Linked DNA regions of Homo sapiens. The protein of the gene in region 1 interacts with the protein of each later gene in a pairwise test. Each region holds a gene or a part of one and is shown in the gene's direction. Other genes may lie near its edges.

What was found. Proteins that work in one complex are often made in the same cells at the same time.
Region 2: the proteins of TNIK (region 1) and PPM1E interact in a two-hybrid assay, tested with the Homo sapiens proteins (2 studies listed by BioGRID and IntAct).
Region 3: the proteins of TNIK (region 1) and GOLGA4 interact in a two-hybrid assay, tested with the Homo sapiens proteins (2 studies listed by BioGRID and IntAct).

Annotation. Positions count from the first base shown.
Region 1 is NC_000003.12:171,457,379-171,465,166, reverse strand, and holds the start of TNIK (TRAF2 and NCK-interacting protein kinase), read left to right. Parts: upstream 1-4,761; 5' UTR 4,762-5,103; coding exon 5,104-5,160; intron 5,161-5,775; exon of another isoform or gene 5,776-5,949; intron 5,950-6,995; exon of another isoform or gene 6,996-7,221; intron 7,222-7,788. UniProt on the Homo sapiens protein: Serine/threonine kinase that acts as an essential activator of the Wnt signaling pathway. Recruited to promoters of Wnt target genes and required to activate their expression. May act by phosphorylating TCF4/TCF7L2.
Region 2 is NC_000017.11:58,751,107-58,758,862, forward strand, and holds the start of PPM1E (protein phosphatase 1E), read left to right. Parts: upstream 1-4,747; 5' UTR 4,748-4,891; coding exon 4,892-5,355; intron 5,356-7,756. UniProt on the Homo sapiens protein: Protein phosphatase that inactivates multifunctional CaM kinases such as CAMK4 and CAMK2. Dephosphorylates and inactivates PAK. May play a role in the inhibition of actin fiber stress breakdown and in morphological changes driven by TNK2/CDC42.
Region 3 is NC_000003.12:37,358,248-37,365,279, forward strand, and holds part of GOLGA4 (golgin subfamily A member 4), read left to right. Parts: intron 1-2,995; coding exon 2,996-3,025; 3' UTR 3,026-3,058; intron 3,059-7,032. UniProt on the Homo sapiens protein: Involved in vesicular trafficking at the Golgi apparatus level. May play a role in delivery of transport vesicles containing GPI-linked proteins from the trans-Golgi network through its interaction with MACF1. Involved in endosome-to-Golgi trafficking.

The DNA of each region.
Region 1 (7,788 bases):
CTGGCATTACAGGCGTAAGCCACGGTGCCCGATGGAGGAAAACCATATCTATAAGCCCTACCAGACTTCTCTGCACTTCTCAGTAGTCAGTGTTGAATGATATGCCTATGTCTAAACCAATCATTAGGAGAGAGAATAGAATGGGGCTGGGGAGAATCTATATGTTTTACACACATGGAGGGTAAATTGTCAAAATCGGTGTTTTACTAGTAAGGAAGAAAGAATGGCTTTGAGCAGGTAACAGAGTTTGCTACCTTTGTTTATCATTGTCTTTTGTAACACACACTTTGTTTTTGGATTCAGTTTACTCTTTGGTGGAAGACATTCTCTAAAAGTAATTTCAAGGATGGGCAGCAATCTCAACTCTTACATATCTGAAAATATGTGTCATTATTTTGTACCCTCTCTTAAGTGCTAATTTAGTTTGGTAGTCTAGGTTAAAAACAATTCCCTTAGAGGCTGGGCGTGGTGGCTTGCACCTGTAATTCCAACATTTTGGGAAGCCGAGGTGGAATCCCAGGAATTTGAGACCAGCCAAGGAAACTTACTGAGACTCCAGCTCTAAAAAAAAAAAAAAAAAAAAAAAAAAAAATTAGCCAGGCATGGCAGCACGCACTTGTGGTCCCAGCTCAGTTATTGGGTGGTGGTGGGGTTAAGGTAGTTAAGGTGGGAGGATAGCTTGAACTCACTGAGGTCCTGCAATGAGCCAGCCACACACTCCAGTCTGGGTGACAGAGAGAGACTGTGTCTCAAAAACAAAACAAAACAAGACAAAACACCATTACAATGATTTCCTTAGAATACTGTTCCATTGTCTATTAGCATCCATTGTTGCTGATGAGAAGGTAATCCAGTTAAGATTTACTTTTTATCCTTCATGCTCTGAAATCTCACTGTGAGGTGTTTAAGTGTGTTATTTTTTACCTATGCATTTGGCTCAGAGCTAAATGAGAGCTTTTTACTTAAAGATACTGGAATATTTTCTTTTTTTCATTCTTGTTGCCCAGGCTGGAGTGCAATGGCACGATCTTGGCTCACTACAACCTCCACCTCCAGGGTTCAAGCAATTCTCCTGCCTCAGCCTCCCTAGTAGCTGGGATTACAGGCATGCATTGCCACACCCGGCTAATTTTGTATTTTTAGTAGAGACGGGGTTTCTCCATGTTGGTGAGACTGGTCTTGAACTCCCTACCTCAGGTGATCCGCCCTCCTCAGCCTCCCAAAGTGCTGGGATTACAGGTGTGAGCCACCGTGCCCAGTCAAGATACTGGAATATTTTCTACCATTTTTTGAGTATTTCCTTCCATCCATTCTCTAGATCCCTTATCAGATGAATATTGGGCCTTCTGGATTTATTCTCCATGTTACTTAAATTACTTAAATGCCTTGGACTAGGTAATTTATAAACAACAGAAACAGAATTGCTCACAGTTCTGCGGCCGGAAAGTCCAAGATCAAGATATCAGCGGATTTGAAGTCTGCTGAGGGCTCCTTTCTCACAGATGGCCCCTTCTATGCATCTTCATGTGGTGGAAGGGCGAACAGGCTCCCTCAAGCTTCTTTTCTCAGGGCACTAATCCAGTTCATGAAGGATCTGCCCTCATGATCTAATCACCTCTTAAAGGTTCCACCTCTTAATACTATCACTATGGGGGTTAGGTTTCAACACATAAATTTTGGGAGACACAAACATTCAGATAGAACAAATGCTTAGAAAAATATCTGCAGCATAGTATTACTTATTATTCAAATTTTCTATTCATTTTTATAAAGAGGGTCTCCCTCTGTCGCCCAGGCTGGAGTGCAGTGGCTTATCTTGGCTTGCTGCAGCCTCAACCTCCCGGACTCAAGCAATTCTTCCACCTCAGCCACCCTAGTAGCTGGGATTGCAGGGGTGTACCACTATGCCCACCTAATTTTTGTATTTTTTGTAGAGATGGGGTTCTACCAAGTTGCCCAGGCGGGTCTCGAACTCCTGGACTCAAACTATCCTCCCAACCTGTCCTCCCAAAATGTTGGCATCACAGGTGTGAGCCACCACCGTGCCTGGCAGAAATCTTTAGCAAAAAAATTAGGTATCATTGTTGGAGTCTCCTTTTCCTCTTCCTCTTTTCTCATTATCCTGAAGTTAATCTGTATCCTTACTGCCTGTATCCATGCTTTATATAGTTTACTACATATTTATACATATGTAAACAGCATAGTGTATTATTCGGCAGGTTTTCAAACTGCACATAAATGGTGTCAGTTCTCTTAATCCTTCAGATTACATCAAGAAAAAAATCTCAAGTCTTGAATGTTTTTCCTGGTATTTGCTATTCTCTCTTTTAACAAACTAAGAGTAGGCCTTAGGCTAGAAGCCCAGAGCAGGAATTGATGGCTAGCTAGAATTTAATAATACTTCTTTATTTTCCATTATATTTATTTTAATGGTTTCCTCCCCCCTTTTTTTTTCAAAGCAAGTGTTGTTGGCTTTCCATTTAGAGTAGTGATTTATGTTTTCTTTTATATTAAGTGTAAGAAAAAAGTGTTGATTTAAAGAAAAATGTTAAGTAAGTGGTAAAATAGTACAGGCAATACAGAGACATAGGAAAAAATTAGGAAATTTATACTGGAATAGCTGAAATTTGATACACACTTGACCAAAAGGAAAAAGTTCAAGTTCCTCCTTCTCACCTTCCTTTACCAGTTGGAGGTCCCTTTGATACTGCAATCTCTCCTTTTATGGTATTTCCTGCAGCCCACACCCCTGCCTTCCCCTGGCTGTCTCATCAACTTCTCAGGCTCTTAGGAAGCCCTCCTCCATTTAGCACCTGGCATCATACTGCATCTATAACTTTCTCATCTAAAACTAAACTAAATCTGAATGCCAACTTGGCACCCTCGTGGCCCAAACAGCTCACTAATGTCAAAAAAGTTGATCTGTTTGTGATGTTTCAAATATAATCATGAGTATAAAACGAAGGCTTTCCATGGAAAAAATATTTAACTCATATTTCCTTATGTTTGCAGTTTTAAAAAAATAGTTGTTTATAGATCTTAATACTTGATCTTAAATTATCTTCTTTCAACCCTGAGACAATACATTAACCTGTTGTCTAGATGAACGGTAAAAAAACAGGAACACAGAAGAGAAAAAAACAAAGACAATGATGGGAAATAATCTGTTTTTTTTTTTTCATTTCGACGTGGTGGCTTACTGCACGTTACTTACTATGTCGAACCAGATGATTTTAGTAAAAAATGAGTTTAGTAATTTAGTATAACACGTTCAAATGTTTACATACAACGTTTACAGGCAAAAGCTACCAAACTGTTGTGGCCATTGAGATGTTGGAACAATTTTCAAGTTTCATGGTGCATGATCCACAATGCATATGAATACATACAATATCAGTAACAAAAACAGTACAATGTACACCAAAGGTTGTTTCAAAGTCCTCTAATGTCTGCAGTCATGATGAACTAACTGCACTGGCTTTCATTCATTCATTCATAAGACTTATTTTGAAGCTGATCTTCATACTGCATGATTAAGAAACCATCAGTGCAGTGGTCAGAATTACATTCTGCTGTTAACAGAGGAGCAAAGAATGCTTTCAAAGCTACTGCTGTATTTGGAAAAAAGTTCAGTTTTAGTGTTTTCTTTCTAGGTATTTTGCATGGCTAAGGCGGGAGAAGAAGGGCTGCGCGGGGATTGGGGGAAGCGACTTCCCACTCTTGATTACAGAAGGAGAATCATGTATACCACTGTAAAACATCCAACCTTTAAATGAGAAAGTGAGTGAAGTGAAATCGCTCTCACGTACACATCTTCCGCGTTACTTCTTATCCGCCAGCCAAACTTTCTCCATCAATCTGGGTAGGTCTGCCACGAAAACGCAGCCTGAAAGAAATGCTGAGTCCTGAGGCGGCGTGTGTTGCCTCACCCAGTGTTGGCTTTGGAGTTACCTGAAGCCTTCTAGCTACTGCACCCAGAGAGCAAGCTTCTCGTTTCAACTCGGTTGTTTCCGTGGGGAATTGCGGCACGAGCAAGTCCTGGGTGTGGCGATGCCAAGAGAGCGCTCAGATCTCCCATCTTTCCCGCTTCTGGCAAACCTTCCCAGCCCCGAATCGGCGAGTGACCAGCACCCGGGATCAGCCGTCCGGCATTCCGGGGACCGCGGGTGGACCCGACCCCGCCGCAGCTGCAAACTGCCGAAGCGCCCAGCTGGGTGCACTGTGCGTGTGCGCTTCTTCCCTACTCTTTCCGCGCCTGGAGGCGGATCCCCTTCCTTGCACACAAGTCCTTATATGCACCGGTTGCACCAGCCCGCGTTACTCCGGCCCCACAAATAATTAATGGGGGAGGGAGGGTGTCGCTTTTTTTTCCTCCGGCTTTTTCTCAGCGCGAGAGCATTTGAACCGAGGAGAAACCCCAAGACGCGACTGAAGGGCCATTTTGCTGCAGTGCACGAATTGGCCACACAAAAATAGAGCTTGGGTCCCTATGATAACAAGTCAAGGTTCAGGAACAGCCCCTTCGGGTTCGGCCCGAGGAGCCCGCAAAAGCCTGGGCGGAAAGGGTGCGCGCCCCTCCCCCCTCCACGCTGGTGCAGAGGGACCGGGTCAGGAAGCGCGGCCTCTCCCCAGTCCAAGACCACGCCTCCTCCGCCTCCCCACTCCCCCTTCACTCCTCCCAGGAAGCGGTGATAGACAGTTCTGCGTGGTTCTCCACCCCCACCCTCCCCCTGCTGAGTGGAGGAGTTGATGTGTCTCATTATAACAGCCAATGCAGCCGCCATCCACGCACAAGCAAAGAAGCATGTCCCATTTAAATACACCCACGCAGCCCCAGCGCCCTTAGCCGATCGGGGCGCTCAGCCCACACGCACCGCTGCTCGGGGCTTGGAGATCCGCGCAGGCTGGGCTCCCGGACCCGGCGGACCGACGCGCGGAGGATCGGGATCCGGCGCTGTGGGGCTGGGGTGGGCGGGGGAGGCTGGGCCCGGGGCCTCTGGCGCGACACCCGCATGAGGACGCGAGTGAAATAGACCAAGGTGGAATTTCCAAGGGAAAAGCTTCGGGGTGGTTTTGGTCCATTTCTCCAGCGAAGAAGTAGACATGGCGAGCGACTCCCCGGCTCGAAGCCTGGATGAAATAGATCTCTCGGCTCTGAGGGTGAGCAGGACGTTTTCTGGTTTCTTTCCAGTGGTTTGGGTTAGGGTGAATGGGCTCGGTGCGTGGACTGGGGGCTGGGGCTGGGGCAGGGGGACAGCAGCGGGAGAATGCGTCGGGGAGGGAACCTGGATTCCCGTTTTGATTCGGGGTTGCTGAGGTGCTCCTGGCTGAGCCCCTACGGCAGGGGCTGTGCGGTACGTGTCTTCCTCTGGCCGTGGCTTAGGCTCTCCCGAGGGCTCGTAGAGCTTATGCCAGTTTCATCTTATACCGGTGTAAGAGCATTAAAATGAAAGGCGTGTGTGCGTGTGTGTGTGTGTGTGTGTGTGTGTGTACACGCCCCGGGCAGTTGTCTGGTGCCAAGGCGCGAGACCCGACTGTCCCTTCTGCAAAAAGAATGCCAGCGTGAATAAAGGCACTGGCCCCTCACGTTTTCCAGCTACCTGCAAGATGACATTGTGAGGCTGGCTGTCCCCGCGAAGCCGAACCTGCCGCTCCAAGGGGGCAGTTATTGCTATGCTGGTCTTGTAGATGGCAACTGCCTCCCCCTCCCCCTTTTCTACCTCCCGCGCCCGGGCGCCCTCTCAGCGCTCCCTTAAATGCCAGTCTGCCACTCACCTTTATTTATGGCTTTAACTCAGCCCTGCCTGTTCTTTCTGACTTTGTGGCTGTAACGTTTCAGTTTTATGGCTGAACTTAAGCAGGTGAAAGGGATGTGTTTTCTGCTTTTCCTCAATCAGACCGGAACTCCCTGGAGTGTGTGCGAGTGTGTGTGTGTGTGTGTCTGTGTGTGTTTTCCCCGTGTCTGTGGCCAGTCCTTTGTAGAGCACCTCCCTCCCCCCAGCCCCACTGGTTTGCGTTTACCTTCACGTGAATTACCTCAGACGCCGTTTCATTGTATTGACTAAGACATCACTGATATAGAATCCATTTTGCTGTTGTTTTGAGATCAGAATACCAGGAATCCAAGTGCTGCTTCGACGCTTCCCCACCCCCAACTCCCGATCCCAACACACTCCTTTGGGGAAGGGGGCAGAGCTTTCTTGCCATTTTAATTAGATGCTGCCTGCCTGGAAGGGGGTGAGGGGTGGGGATGGTGGCAGCAGCGGGTGTCTGAGAAGGATTGGACACCAATTTAAGGACTGCTTCTTCCTCTCCCGAACCAAAAATAAAATTAAAAAGAAAGCGAGTGCATATACTTGATGTATGGAGGGTGGATGAGAAGGAATTCATGGTGGCTCTCTACAGGGAGACACCAGGATGGATGAAGCATGGAAGTTCACACGCCCTCCTGAGGAATACATTGTTAGATTGATGCTGAATCTTGGGGCCATTTACCTGGATTCCTAGTACTTCTGACATTGCCGCTATCTGCACTGATATATTAAAGTGCTACCTTTGTGATCAAAGTGGTACTTTCTCTTTGGTCTCCTTAATTAAACCTTTTCCTCCACATCTCTTTGAATAAGTCTTTCTCTCTTCGTCTTAATCTGTTGGGCTAAGAGATGAGGTTTCAGCAAGGCAAGTAAGGAGTTGAGAAGAAACAGAGATGCCGTTTGAAATGGGCTGTTCTGATAGTTGGGCAGCCAAAGCTCATTCATGCATTATTACAGGAAGCTGTCTATTTCCCTGGAGTGGAAATGCCACATCAAGAACCGGCTGCCCCCTGCGCAGCGGGGTGGGGTTGGTAACAGGGTGGGTGCATTGGCCAGGTCTGTGGCTTCCTGCTTTACCGACTGTGTGTGTTCATTTGCCCTACTTTCTACGCTGGGAGTTGCTGCCGGCGAGTTAATCAGGTGGATGGATGGCCCCGACTGGGGGTGGGGTGCTGCGAATCGGTCGGAGGTCGGGGTGGGGGGCGGGAAGTGGCAAAGGGGGAAGGGGTCTGAACAATGCGCAGGGCTTGCGGTGATTTCCCTGGGCCGGAATCTCGACCTTGCTCCTCTACTGGAAAGCAGTCTGATGTGATTTTAAGTTGGGCCGGGACTTGTCCCTTATGGGCTTTTTCCTCGGGAAGGTTTTCTGAGATACCAAGCACGGAGCCTGCAGGCAGGGGAGCAACCGGTGAGGGCCCACTGGGCGGACGACTGCGGTTCACACTTGGGATGTGCTTTCTTGTGATCTGTATTTTGAAAATATATCTTTGCACAATTCACTGAAATTGCTCTTTGTGGCCTGGGCTATCAGCTTAGGGCTCTGCTTCTGTTTTTCTGCCTGCTGGGAGGTGTGGAAACAGAGAGGGCAACAGCTAGCTTGGGGACCAGGAACTGCTGGCTAGAAGACTTAGATGCAGATGTGGAGACAGTTATATCCTGGAGGGCCAGGGTCTTTGACCAGTCTTGTGGGTGAGGTGTGTCTGCTGGAGTGGGTCCAAAGGCCACATAGGTAATCTCCACAAATCAGAGGGCAGATCATCTCCACCTTGCCACATTTGGAGAGGTGGCCTCATCTAGATGAGATGTCTCATTTGTTCCTAAGCCCTTGGTAAAGTCTGCCTGCTGAGCCCCTCCTGGGGAATGCCTGACCCCTGAAATGCAGCCAAGGTCAGTGGCTTCTGGGAGAATTTGCTGCAGACTTACCAGTCCCTCGCTGTTTCGGTGGCTCTTTAATGTACACAGTCAATGCTCTTTT
Region 2 (7,756 bases), on another chromosome or scaffold:
CTAAAGGACAAATGGGGGAAGATGTTGTTCTGGAGCTGAGGGGATAGGGTCACTGGCAAAAGCTAGAGAATCCCAGTGAACATATTCATGGGGAGGAAAGCTACAAAGGAAATGCATCAGGCCTCAGGACTGAGCTAGGGAACAGGGCTTTTCTTCTTTCCTCCCTTCTTCCAATTTCTTGTCAGTGCCTACCACTGGACAAATCCCAGGTGAAAGTCAGCTGTCACAGTAGCCTAGTGAATACAGCCTGAAAGGGTCAGCCCTCCTACAATACAGAGCAGGGCAAAGGAGGAGAAAGAATAGGTATGAGGGCAAAATGGACAAGGACTGACACAGTAATCAATTCTTTTTAACTTTAAAAATCAACTTTATTGAGGTGTAATTTATATACAATTTATATACAATTTATATACAATTTATATACTTATTTTAAATGCAGACTTGGATAATTTTTTTTTTGAGATGGATTCTGCTATGTTGCCCAGGCTGGAGTGCAGTGGCTATTCACAGGTGCAATCATATTACACTGTAGCCTTGAACTCCTAGGCTCAAACGATCCTCTTGCCTCAGCCTCCAGAGTAGCTGGGACTATAAGCACATGCCACCCTGCCTGGCAATAATTTTTGGCAAATGAGTACACCCATATGACCAATCAGTCAAGATACAGAACATTTTAATCACTTCACAAAGTTCCTGCTTACTCCTTTGCTACAAATCTCCCACCCCATCCCAGTCCCAGGCCACCAGGAATCTGCTTTCTCTCACTATATAGGTTAATTTTGCCTGTTTGGGAATTTTATACAAATGGAAATATATTATGTACTCTTTTGTGCCTGGATTTTTTTTTTTGGCTCAGTATATTTTTGAAATTCATCCATGTTGTGTTTATCAGCAGTTCATTTATTTTTATTGCTGAGTAGTATTCCATTGTATGAATACACTACTTTATCTGTTCATTTGTTGATGGACATCTGGGTTGCTTCCAGGTTTGAGCTGTTATGAATGAAACTTATGTGAACAGTTATGTACAAGTTTTTTTGTGTTTGGGGTGTGTGCAAGTGCATGTGTGTTTGGTGGACATGTTTTATTTCTCATGAATAAAATACCTGGGAGAGGAATTGCTGGGTCATGTAAGAAACTGCCAAACTCAACAATTCTTTTTAACCTTATAAATGTCATTACTATGAATGTCCACAAAAGGACATTGTACATTTCCTCCAAAGAGCAAAGGGTTAGAGGGAGAATAATTTTTATGAGAAAAACTTTAAAAATTTGATACCTTAAAAATACGTTAAACTTTTCATAACAATATTTTTTTTCCTTTTTATTTTTTATTTATTTATTTTTTTTCTGAGACGGAGTCTCGCTCCGTCACCCAGACTGGAGTGCAGTGGCGCGATCTTGGCTCACTGCAAGCTCCGCCTCCCGGGTTCACGCCATTCTCCTGCCTCAGCCTCCCAAGTAGCTGGGACTACAGGCGCCCGCCACCACGCCCGGCTAATTTTTTGTATTTTTAGTAGAGATGGGGTTTCTCCGTGTTAGCCAGGATGGTCTCGATCTCCTGACCTCGTGATCCGCCCGCCTCGGCCTCCCAAAGTGCTGGGATTACAGGCATGAGCCACCGCGCCTGGCCTCCTTTTTAAAAAATATATTTTAGGGACAGGGTTTTTCTTTGTTGCCCAGGCTGGTCTTGAACTCTTGAGTTCAAGCTATCACAGCCTCACAAAGTGCTGGGATTACAGGCGTGAGCCACCATGCCCAGCCCTCAATATTTTTTAATAGATAGTATGCAAGGGGATTAGAAAAGTGTAATAAGAAAGGAGTTGAAAAAGAGAGCAAACTAATGCAAAATAATTACTAAAGACTTCTTGACAATGGCAAAATCATCCTACACAGCTGCTCTGAGATCTCAGCACTTGCTGTCAGCTACCTTCTGGCAAAGCTACTTTGTCAAATGGATGCAATAGGATCCATATTGATCTTTGTGAAGGAATATCTTTATTAATATAAGCAAACACGCCTCTCACTTATAGTAATGTAGAGGTGTGGGCTTTTTCTTTTAGTAGTATTGTTTCCCCAACATATATCACTTTCCTTTGAAATGTGGGCTGAGTCATAAATTAATGTCACAAATGAGGGAGGCAACTATGTTACAAAGTAGGAAGGCGTAGATATGAATTGTTACAGTTGACAGCTAAGTACTCTTGAACTAAATGTCATTATGTCAAATTCTGAGATATTAAACAATTGTTGAAATGTAAAATTGTGGACATTTAGGTTTGCAGCCTAAAAAGTTTTGTCAATCTTTTCTAGACATTCTGAAATGGAAATGAACAGGTGGATTGAAAACAAAGACAAATGAGGAGTTTAAAGACTTTCTTGGCACCTCATAGAGAAGTTGCTCTACGCTGGTTATGTTTTAAACAAAACACATATAAATACATTCAGCATTTCTGGAAACAGATTTATTAGATCTTTCCATTTACCTTTGGGAAAAAAATATAGAGGACTCAAGGCAATTATTCACTATATTCTTTCTATCATGTATTATTTAATCTCAAGCTAGGAGAGGAACTCTGTTTTACATGATGCCATAATGTACATTAGTGAGCTCAACCCACTTAATCTTAAAATAACAGTATCAGGTCAGGGATTTAGAATACAGTATTATATGAAAACAGTTGGCAGAGAGACTCCCTCTTCTGCCATTAATAACTGGAAACGATATTTCAGACCCTAAATCCAACTGAAACCCAGAAACAATACATGGAGAGGATGGGGTGGATAATTTGTGAGAACATGTTTTTCAAAGTAGAGAAAGAATCACTATGTTTTTGCTGAATTATATGTTGCCATGGACATGGCAGTTTGCAGTAATGATGCTATCATCTATACAGCTGTATAACAACACAGCTTCTTTCTCTCCCACTCCTTCAGTAAGGCTTAAAAATAATAGGTTTGTGTGTAGTTTGGTAAGAAAATTAGAATCACTTAAAGTCATTTCAATTCCAACCCAAGAAAGAAAAAAAGAGACTTGGGGGGATGGGGAAGAAGAGCAAACAAAATGTAGAAAAAATACATATTATTGGCCGGGCACGGTGGCTCACGCCTGTAATCCCAGCACTTTGGGAGGCCAAGGTAGGCGGATCATCTGACATCAGGAGTTCGAGACCAACCTGACCAACATGGTGAAACCCTGTCTCTACTAAAAAGACAAAAAAATTAGCCGGGCGTGGTGGCACATGCCTGTAATCCCAGCTACTCAGGAGGGTGAGACAGGAGAATCGCTTGAACCCAGGAGGCAGAGGTTGCAGTGAGCCGAGATCCTGCCATTGCACTACAGCCTGGGCAACAAGAGCAAAACTCCGTCTCAAAAAAAAAAGAAAGAGAAAAGAAAAAATACATATTATATAATGAAGTATAATATGCATTATGCAGAGACTAAAGAGGGGAGTCTTGGTTGCCTGAAAACTAATGGGTAAAATCCATTGAAGTGGGTGAATCCAGTGAAAAGACCTGGATTGAGTCCTTGTTGCATCCCTTGCATGTGACCTTGAGCAAAGTCACCATGTCTTTAAGGCTGTTTTCTCACCTATAAAATGGAATAATTGGCCGGCGTGGTGGGTCACACCTGTAATCCCAGCACTTTGGGAGGCTGAGGCAGGCAGATCACCTGAGGTCAGGAGTTTGAGACCAGCCTGGCCAATATGGTGAAACCCCGTCTCTACTAAAAATACAAAAGTTAGCCGGGGGTGGTGGCAGGCCCCTGTAATCCCAGCTACTTGGGAGGCTGACGCAGGAGAATCACTTGAACCCGAGAGGCGGAGGTTGCAGTGAGCTGAGATCGCGCCACTGCACTCCAGCCTGGGTGACAAGAGCGAGATTGTCTCAAAAAAAAAAAAATCATAACGGTAACGTCCTATACCTCAAGGGACTGTGGTAAGAATTAAAAGGGTGAAATCAATGTGTAAACTATGAAGCCCAATAGAAATAAGGTGTTATACAGACAATTGCACTATTGAATCTCCGGAGACAGAGTTGAGTTAAGGAAAAATGCACTTTCGGAAAGCTTTGGCGACTGAACGACCTGAGTTCTCCAACGCCAAGGCTGGAAGTTTGGAGACCTTGAAACAAGTAAATTACCATTAATATCATAATTTTCAGTTTCCTTTTAAGAAATGAGAGTAACACCACTTTCTTCACAGAATCAAGTGAGAGAGAACCTATGCAAAGGAACTTATCACTTGGTAGGTATTTGAAGCTCCCTCTGCCTGAAAACTACTTATTCAAAGACTGCAACAAAAGGTGTTCACAGTGTGGTATCTTTCAAAACATACGCTAAGGCAAGGAACAGATAAGGAAATGGAAGTACATCCAATTGGGATCCAAGCAACCCAAGTGGGAACCAACAGCTAGACTTGGAGATGTCTTAGCTCACTCTTAACCACGTGAGGGTAGGGTATCCAACCAATAAAGACATTCAGAGTTGGAGAGCGGGCGAGTGGAGTGTCCTTTAGACTCCGCGGACTCGACGGGAGGGACCCTGCAATGCTTAATTAGAACCGGTTGCCATGGCGACAGTCTCTAGGCAGCGTGGGCTGAGCTCTCCGTAGGAATAAAGGGTGGGCCGCCGCTGGACCCTGCGCGCGCCCGCCACCAACTTTCCCTCCAGATCCGAGAGGGGCGGCGCGCTCCGCCCCCGGGCCGCGCACGTCGGTGCTCGGCGGCGCGCACGCCTGCGGGAGCCCTCTCCAGGCAACCTAGTGCTGATCGCTCGTGCCGGTGCGGCCGTTAACCGCCCTTGCCGGAGCCCTAGGCTCAAAAGCAGCCCCTTACCCTTCCTGGGCTTCCCCCAACCCCTTTCCCGGTCTGCCCTGGGGCATGAGCAGCGATGGCCGGCTGCATCCCTGAGGAGAAAACTTACCGGCGCTTCCTGGAGCTATTCCTGGGCGAGTTTCGCGGACCGTGCGGCGGCGGCGAGCCGGAGCCGGAACCCGAACCCGAACCCGAACCCGAACCCGAGTCCGAGCCCGAGCCCGAACCTGAACTGGTAGAAGCTGAGGCGGCCGAGGCTTCGGTAGAGGAACCCGGGGAGGAGGCGGCCACGGTAGCCGCGACGGAGGAGGGGGACCAGGAGCAAGACCCGGAGCCCGAGGAGGAGGCGGCGGTTGAGGGTGAGGAGGAGGAGGAGGGCGCGGCGACGGCGGCGGCAGCCCCGGGGCACTCGGCCGTGCCGCCGCCGCCGCCCCAGCTGCCGCCTTTGCCCCCGCTCCCGCGACCGCTGTCAGAGCGCATCACCCGCGAGGAGGTGGAGGGCGAAAGCCTGGACCTGTGCCTGCAGCAGCTCTACAAATAGTTAAGTAGCTGGGCTTGGCTGGTGGTGGGCCCGCGGTCCCCACCGCGCCGGCCTCGGACGCGGCTCCCTCGGCCCCTCAAACTGCTCTCTTTTCTGCTCCTCTCCCCCGCACCCGCGCCTGCCGCCGCTGAAAGCGCCCCCGCTGCTCGGACCCGGGCGGTCGGCTGAGAGCTGCCCACGCCCGCCTCGGCCCCCACGCCCGCCTCGGCCCCCACGCCTCCTACCCGGCCTTGAAGCCGCTCTCCTGAGCCCCGGCGCCCTCCCGCCGGGCCCGGGCCCCTCATCCCCTTTCACCTCGGCCCCCAGCTTCTAGCTCCACTTCACGCAACCTTTCCCTTTCCTGCCTGGAAAGGTCCTTCCTCCCAGGCTTGAGCTCCCTCTTCTTCCCAGATCCCTTCTTTCTCCGGGAGGTTTCCTCCCACCCCAGTCTGTCTTTTCCCGGGCTGAGTGCCTTGTTGTTTGGCGGCAGAGACGCGACTCCTTTCTAGACTGAGCTGCGAGGTGCCTCCTGCGTAACTGCAACAATGATGGTTATACCGGCCCCGTATCCAGATGAGAGAATGGAGTAGATTTTCCGTCAGGTGCTCAGTGTTGAAAGTGAAGGGCTTTTTAGATGTTTTCACACAGGGAAGCCTAGTCTCTTAGTTTAGACATTTGACATTCCATAATTGAGGGAAGTGGGAAGGAATTGAGAGGGAAGGGTAAGCAAAATTTTGCAAGCAAGCCTTCGGGTGAAAGAGCCATAATTCATTAAAGTGGAAAAGTCAGGCTGTTTTGATTAAATTGCAATTAGGTGCAGTATTTTCAGTCCATTAAGTAGATGGGATGGGGTGGGGAGAAAGCAGATGGCTTAGCTACACAGATGAAAGTCTAAAATAGAAAGGTCAAGGCTTTGCCTTTCATCCCAGTTCTGGTTTTTATAGGCCTGAAATAGAAACGGTTTACAATTGCGTTTCTCAATGGAATTGTTCCGAAATAATGACAGAGGAGAATACTAGTAAGTCTCTGAAAACATTGGTAAACCTGGGAAGTCTTTTGCCATTCAGCTGATAGTTGTAATGAAAGGTGTTACTCTGGCCACCCAAAAAGTTTACTACTGCAAGATTCGCTGTAATTAAGTTCAAACTCACTTTTGGGATTTTCTCAAAAGCCTAAAGAAAAGAAGGGCCTGGAAAGTAAACCTGTTTTGTCTTCATCCAAGCTAATAGACACCTGATCAGATCATTCTCCTGTTAAAGCAGCAGTTTATCAATAGGGGAAAATCATTTAACAAATCTTCCATAGAAGTGGACTGTGTTGGTATTTCATAATATAAGCTATCTAAAATTTAATTTTAAAATACTGTTCAATTACAGTATTACCGTCAATTAGCAAGGTAATGATGCTTTTTGAGAAACGTAAAATATAAAATGGCGTGTAATACCACCACCCAGAGATAAACAGTATTAACATTTTAGAGTATATCTGGTCTTTGTGAACTATCATAGACAAGGGCTTCTGAGATGTAATTTTTTACAGTATTTAAAGATAAAGCTCCCTGCTTAAAATAAAATGGAAATGTTTATTAAGGGAATTTATCTTAGCAGCAGACTGGCTCTATCTTGACAGTTAATTCTTACCTTTACAAATGCAGTTTGCAGAATTAAACCAATTCAAACTTTAGAAAGTGTCCAAATAAGGTCATTATTTTAGTACAACCCTGAACATTTGCCATGTAAGAAGGTTTTTTTTTTTTAACTTATTTAAAGATGATGGCAAGAAGATGTGTGTTTTTTCATATAGAAGCGGCCAGGAGCGGTAGCTCACTCCCGTAATCCCAGCTCTTTGGGAGGCCGGGGTGGCAGATCATGAGGTCAGGAGTTCGAGACCAGCCTGACCAACGTGGTGAAACTGCGTCTCTACTAAAAATACAAAAATTAGCTGGGCGTGGTGTCGCGCGCCTGTAATCCCAGATACTCAGGAGGCTGAGGCAGGAGAATCGCTTGAACCCGAGAGGCAGAGGTTGCAGTGAGCTGAGATTGTGCCAGTGCACTCCAGCCTGGGTGACAGAGCAAGACTCCGTCTCAAAAAAAAAAAAAAAGATTAATTTTGATATAGGTATAAACTAGAAAAAACTGAAATGATAAAATGGCCATCTAGTTGAGAACAGAAGTTTGGATTTGAAATAAAACTAGCAAAATTAAAGTTGGAAAATATTTCCGCTTAAATCAGAGATTTCATCATTTATATTGTGTTTTGTACAGAAGTTGTTAATGTATTTTTATTCAGATATAAAATGGCTGGCTTGTTCATGTAAAGTATCTTTAAGGTCCTTAACAGGTTTAAAAACAGTTTTTGCCGGGCACAGTGGCTCATGCCTGTAATCCTAGCAGTTTGGGAGGCTGAGGTGGGCGGAACACC
Region 3 (7,032 bases), about 130 Mb from region 1:
AGCACTAATCAAAAGCTTTCTATGACTGCTGGTGAGGTACTTTTCAATATATCTTATCTTTACTATACTTCTCTCTCTTCAGTGAGTTTTATACTCTTTATTTAAAAAACCTCATTACAGGATACAAGTTATTACTGTTTTCAGAGTTTAACCTAGTCTCGAGTAGATTTTATAGATGAGAAATCACTATCTGTTAAGTAAGGTTAAATTACAGAGCATAATTACAGTCTGGTTTATTTGAGGGTCTTGGTGTATAGGGAAGGAATCTTAGTCCTTTGTTGACTTGCTGTGGAAACTCAGGCAATTCTCAGAGCCTCTTTTCTTCACAAGACTAACATAATCTTGTTAGGATTGTCCAGGAACCAGAGTACAGTTGCCTGCGCTGAGTGATAATGTAGGGATGGTGGTGATAATTATTTAGCCTCCTTTTAGCAATGTGTAGAACTAGTCTTTTCTGGAAAAAGAGACTGGAAAGGTAAATCATTGATGTGTATAAGAAAAACCATTAAAGACCTCAGTAGGAGGGTCAAGTCACACGGTGATACCAGCCCACAAAATGCCCCCATCTCCAACTTCGGTACCTTAGAGTGCCAGCGACATGCGACATTGCTGGGATGAGAGCCTAGATCTCAATGGTTTGACTGCTGTATAACTTAGCGCAAACTGTTTTCATATTTTTGACCCTCATTGGTAAAATGAGATTGTTGGATTATACTATCTCTAAGGTTTCTTTCCCCACAAAGTATAAAATCTTGTTTTATATTTGTTTCAAGTAGGAAAAAGAATTGCCTTCTAAACAGCAGGCAGAAGTTAAAACAAAATGCACATACCAAATGCACATATCTCTGTTTTTCCTAGAACAGCTTTTTTTCCCTCCTCTCAATTTTTAGTTTACTATACCTTGCTACTTCATTTTATGATGGTTTAGGTAGCTTAGATGGCCAGAGTAGACTGGATATTCGAGTAGCACAATATGGGCAAGAGTGAATACATAAGTTCTTGGCTCATCTAATTGTTAGTGTTTTTATTGAATAAAACTGCCCTAGAAGTACACCCTGATTTTTTTTAAAATGAGAGTATTATTACATTATTTAAGATAATTTCATTAGGAAAGTTTATTGTAATTGGGTAACAAGCATCTCAGAATTGAGATTCCTTTGTTATATGGAAACCCCTCTTTAAAAGTTTTCTTAGACATTTTTCTCTTTAGAGTGCTAGCAAAATGTAATGACATAAATGGACATCACTGTTTTCTTGATGACTCCATTAAAGAAAATTTCTCTTTGATGGAGAAGGTTGGCTTGTTTGTGTTCTCTGTCCATTCTAGTCATCTTTTTCAATTGCTCTTCTGTTGACTCTCCTTCAACTTTGCTTTCACACTGATTCTTGGTGGTGTATATAGTTCTTCATCAGTCCTTGCCCTGGACCAGTCTTGTGTTCTCTTAACGTCTCATTTTCTTCCCCTGTTGGAATTTTCAAAATTTCCTCCGAATTAATAAAATCAGAACTTTTCAGCATTGCTAGGTACAAAAGTTTTCCATTCCCACACGAGGTTTACCCTTTCCCTCTGCATGGGCTCAGAAGATGCATGCAAGGTGGGTTCAGGAAACACATACAAATAAAACTGACACATTATAGAAAATATTGCACATGTCAAATACATATTTGTTTTCTTGAGATTGGTTTTGATTCTGGTGTTGGTAGAATAAGGTAATACGTGATCACTGGAAAAAATATTATAAGCCAGAAACATAGAAAGGGAGTCCCTCATGATCTTCAGCCTCCAGACTACTTCTGCTATGCCAGTATCATCTCTGTGAACAGTTTGGGGAATATCTCCATGTTTTCTAAGCCATGTAATTACATATTTATAGTTACTCCTTTATCATTCATTTTATTTTATAAAAATGAGAGTATGCAATGGCTTGCTTTTTTCACTTAATATATTTTTATATTATTCCACCTTATTACAAATTGGTCTCATTCTTTTCAATGGCTGATTGTATGATTATATGGATGTCCTACAGTTTAGTTCACCAGTTTCCTCCTCATTCCATTTACTTATGTTTTCAAGATTTTCAGTACTTTACAAGCATAGACATAGGGAACATCCATATACATGGATTTTGTATACTTCTGCCAGAGAGGATATTAACCTCATTGTGTTGTGTGTGTTGCACATATTATTTTCTAGCTTGTCTTTTGGTTTTGCTGCTTTTTACTAACTTTAAATATGAAAGATAAATAAAATGATGTTTCTGAGGTTGGCCACACTATCCAAGAATAGACTCAGATTTTATAAGCAATCTTTGTTTTTAATGCTGCCATTTTAAATCACCGTGAAGGTAATTAATGATTTTGGACAATGACCATCTTAAAATGGGGCATAGAATTTATTTAAGGTTTGTCACAGTAAAAACTATATTTGAGATTGAGTTTCCTTAAATTGAAATTTCAGTTTGGGTCACCATTCCTGAAACCATTTCTGATACATTGTTGAATTACAAGAGAGTTATTCAGTGATCAAATTGACACATTAGGAATGAGAATTCAACATATAGACACATGGCTCTTCAAATTCATCATCATTTTCCCGAAAACTTTTTAGGGTAAATTGAGATTATGTAAATCAAATTTTAATGTGTACTTTCATGGAATTATGAAAGAGATCCTTTTGTAAAGCAAATAATTGCCCCGTAATTCAGCTGGTAAATATGTACTTAAAATATGCAGTACACCTTTCATTACGTTGTTTAAGTCTTCAAATGAAAGTTGCAAGTAAAATCTCAGCTACATAATATTATATTTACCTAGGATATGGGGGGAGGTATTACAGATTCCTTATTCCTTGCCTGTACACCCTTGATTTGGGGAGATTTGAGAAAAATTTAAGTACAGTCTGTAATCCTATGAACTTCATATACACATACAATCTATGTGTTATATTAAGTCTTAAAACTAACCCAATAAGCTTTTTTTCTTCCTGGCTTTGTAGTTTACTTCACCTCGCAGTGGTATCTTCTGAGTAAACCATCAGTCTGTGCTTAGTTAACATGTGGTGAGTGAAGAACAATGTCTTGTGTCTTTTGTGCAAAAATCAAATGTGTTGCCTGATACTAACCATTTTGCTGGAATTCTTTTGCTCTTGTTTAATAAATATATGATTATGCTATGGGTTAATATAAGTATTTTCTGTTCATTCTGTTATATGGATCGATAATAGTTAAAAATTACTACCACCAGTAAGAGTTATATAATTTTAGGAAATTTCATTTCTTTAAAGAGTAATTGAAAGTTTGAAAATTGCTCTTTGAAATTTTGTTAAAGAATCCAAAAAAGTATTTATGTAACTTATTTTCCCTTTTGTTTTTAATTTTCCAAGAATGATCTTTGAAATTATGATTGTGAGAGAGAAATGAAAAATCATTTTCTAGATAAAAATGAAGTGGTATATTCCGTGAGAATTCAAAATCCTGTAAAGCCTGAGTCAAGGCCAGTCAGAAATAATGAAAACTAGTAAGATCAATTTTAAAATATAGCTTCATTACTTCCTGAAATCAGACAGTTTAACACAAGACAACACATTTGTCCTGAGGAGACCGTTAGGCAGCCTACTTTAATTGAATGTGATTCTTCCTGATTAACATATTACAGTGAAATGCAGGCATATGAAATGTTTCAACGCAGTTGACTGTCTTCATCATTTAAACCCTCTCCCCTCATCTCTATGTATTTTTCATGCTATTAGGTTGATTTAGCACCCTCTGAAAATGTACCATACATCTTTACCTCAGCCTTTGCTAGAATTTTCACAAAATCAAAAACAGATCACAATTAGTAGGGCTTCACTATAATTAAAATAAATACTCTCAGTGATTGTTAATATCCAGCTAATAATAGTATCAAGGTTTAAAATGGCAAGATACAACATTTCTCCGTTCTTTTAAGCTTTTATTTATTTATTTATTTATTTATTTATTTATTTATTTATTATTTTTTTTTTTTTTGAGACGGAGTCTCGCTCTGTCGCCCAGGCTGGAGTGCAGTGGCGGGATCTCGGCTCACTGCAAGCTCCGCCTCCCGGGTTCACGCCATTCTCCTGCCTCAGCCTCCCAAGTAGCTGGGACTACAGGCGCCCGCCACTACGCCCGGCTAATTTTTTGTATTTTTTTTTAGTAGAGACGGGGTTTCACCGTTTTAGCCAGGATGGTCTCGATCTCCTGACCTCGTGATCCGCCCGCCTCGGCCTCCCAAAGTGCTGGGATTACAGGCGTGAGCCGCGCCCGGCCTTATTTATTTTTTTTTAAAAAATAAGTAAAGCCTTTATCACCCTGGCTGGAGGGCAGTAGTGTGATCATAGTTCATTCCTGTGTCAGCTCCTGGGCTCAAGGGATCCTCCCACCTCAGCCTCCCAAATAACTGGGACTCTAAGGCACCTATTTTTTTATTTTATTTTATTTTGTAGTGATGGTCTTGCATAGGCTGGTCTCGAACTCCTGGGCTCAAGCGATCTTCCTACCTCAGCCTCTAAGCTTTTTTTTTTTTTTTTTTTTGAGACGGAGTCTCGCTCTGTCACCCAGGCTAGAGTGCAGTGGCGTGTTTTTGGCTCACTGCAAGCCCCGCCTCCTGGGTTCACACCATTCTCCTCCCTCAGCCTCCTGAGTAGCTGGGACTACAGGTACCCGCCACCATGCCCAGCTAATTTTTTGTATTTTTAGTAGAGACAGGGTTTCACCGTGTTATTCAGGATAGTCTCGATCTCCTGACCTCATGATCTGCCCACCTTGGCCTCCCAAAGTGCTGGGATTACAGGCGTGAGCCACTGTGCCTGGCCCTCTAAGCTTTTATCTTTAAAAATCTTCTGTGCCTTCATTTGAGCCTCCTTTTGATTTTAATATATATTATTTGATTTGCCTTAGCGATTATCCAGAACTGTCTTATTTTTGTCATCCACATTACAATGGCTGGCAGTACAATGCATGGTTTTATTAGGTTACTTTGATAATAAATGTGAACATTGAAAAACTGTAAATTCTATAGCTAACCCATTAAGTCTTAATGTTTTCCTTTTAAAATAATACTGCATTGTACTTGTTATTATTGCAGCTGAATATCAATTATCACTGGAAATGTATATTGTGCAGCATTTCTATTAATTGATTAATTGATTGTCTCCTCAACTTTTAGTTTGAAACATTTCAGACATAAGATTTGCAAAAATAGTACAATGAACACCCATATACCCTTCACCTAGTAATGTTTGGCCAGATTTTCTGACTTGCTGTCACTCTTGTTCTCTCTCCATTTATATTATTCCCCATTTGTAACATTTGGCAATTACTTGCCGACATGCTTGCAAGCATTTGACAATTGTAAACATAAACTAAGTACTTTAGCATGTATCTTTAAGAACAAGGACATTTTTCTACATACAGTACAGTTATTACACTCAGGAAGTTTAATATTAGCTAATACTAATATATAGTACATAATACTCAGTTTTTTACAGTTTTCCAAATAATGTCTCCCATAATTTTTTAGAATCCAGGATCCACTTGAGATTTCACATTGCATTTAGTGGTCATATTTTCCTAGTCTTTTTTAAACTAGAAAACGTCTAGCTTTTTTGTTTTTAATGATGCAGCATTGTTGAACTGATCTTGAATTTTGTTTCCCACAACAGATCAAGCTACGGTTTCAAAATAAAAACTGACAAGGAATTTACGTATAACAGAAGATCTTGTTGGTGTCTTCTTTAGGTTCCTAGGACCAACATGATTATTGAACTAGTTTTATAAATAATATACTATTAGTAGTACATTATGAGTAGTGAAATATTTGTTCATTTACAAATTCAGAAGACTAAAACTCCCCCTATCCACTTAATATATATGGAAAGTTTGCCTCTATTAATCTTACTTGGTAATTTATTTTTATGGGATTTTAAACTCATATCTTGATGTGACTACTGGTTTTAGCATTTTCTTTTCCTTTTCTTTTTTTTATATTTGAGACGGAGTTTCACTCTTGTTGCCCAGGCTAGAGTGCAGTGGCGCAATCTCGGCTCACTGCAACCTCCACCTCCCAGGCTCAAGTGATTCTCCTGCCTCAGCCTCCTGAGTAGCTGGGGTTACAGGTGCCCGCCACCACACCCAGCTTATTTTTTGTATTTTTAGTAGAGACCGGGTTTCACCATGTTGGCCAGGCTGGTCTCGAACTCCTGACCTCAGGTGATCCACCTGCCTTGGCCTCCCATAGTGCTGGGATTACAGGCGTGAGCCACTGCTCCTGGCCAGCATTTTCATTTGAGAAACATTATGAGGAAGACTTTGGCTATGTCATAGCTTTTTTTTTTTTTTTTGCCCCCCAGCATGGTCACACCAGCCTAGAGTGCAGTGGCGTGAACACAGTTCACTGCAGCCTTGACCTCCTGGGCTCAAGGAATCCTCCCGCCTCAGCCTTCTGAGTAGCTGGGACCACAGACACATGCCACCACACCTAGCTATTTTTTTTAAAAAAAAGTTTGTAGATACAGGGTCTTGCCATGTTGCCCAGGCTGGTCTTGAACTCCTGGGCTCAAGCAGTCCTCTGACCCTGGTCTCCCAAAAGTGCTGGGATTATAGGCATAAGCCACCATGCCCAGCCAGCATTTCTAATTAATTTATTTTTTGAGACAAGGTGTCACTGTCGCCAAGCCTGGAGTGCAGTGGTACAGTCAGCTCACTGCAGCCTTGACTTCCCAGGCTCAAGCGATCCTCCTGCCTCAACCTCCTGAGTAGCTGGGACTACAGACACACACCATCATGCCTGTCTAATTTTTTCTATTTTTTGTAGCAATGGGATCTCACTATGTTGCCCAGGCTGTTTTTAATTTTTAAATTAAATTTCTTAATTCCAGATGAGACATAAATTTCCACACCAAAATGCTGTTTGTCTTTTGCTATTATGTCATGCTGGGAGAATTGCAATTTGTAGAATAATCAGCACACTGGATAAGAGGAAAGAGCTCTTTCTCATCTTTATTTTTTATTG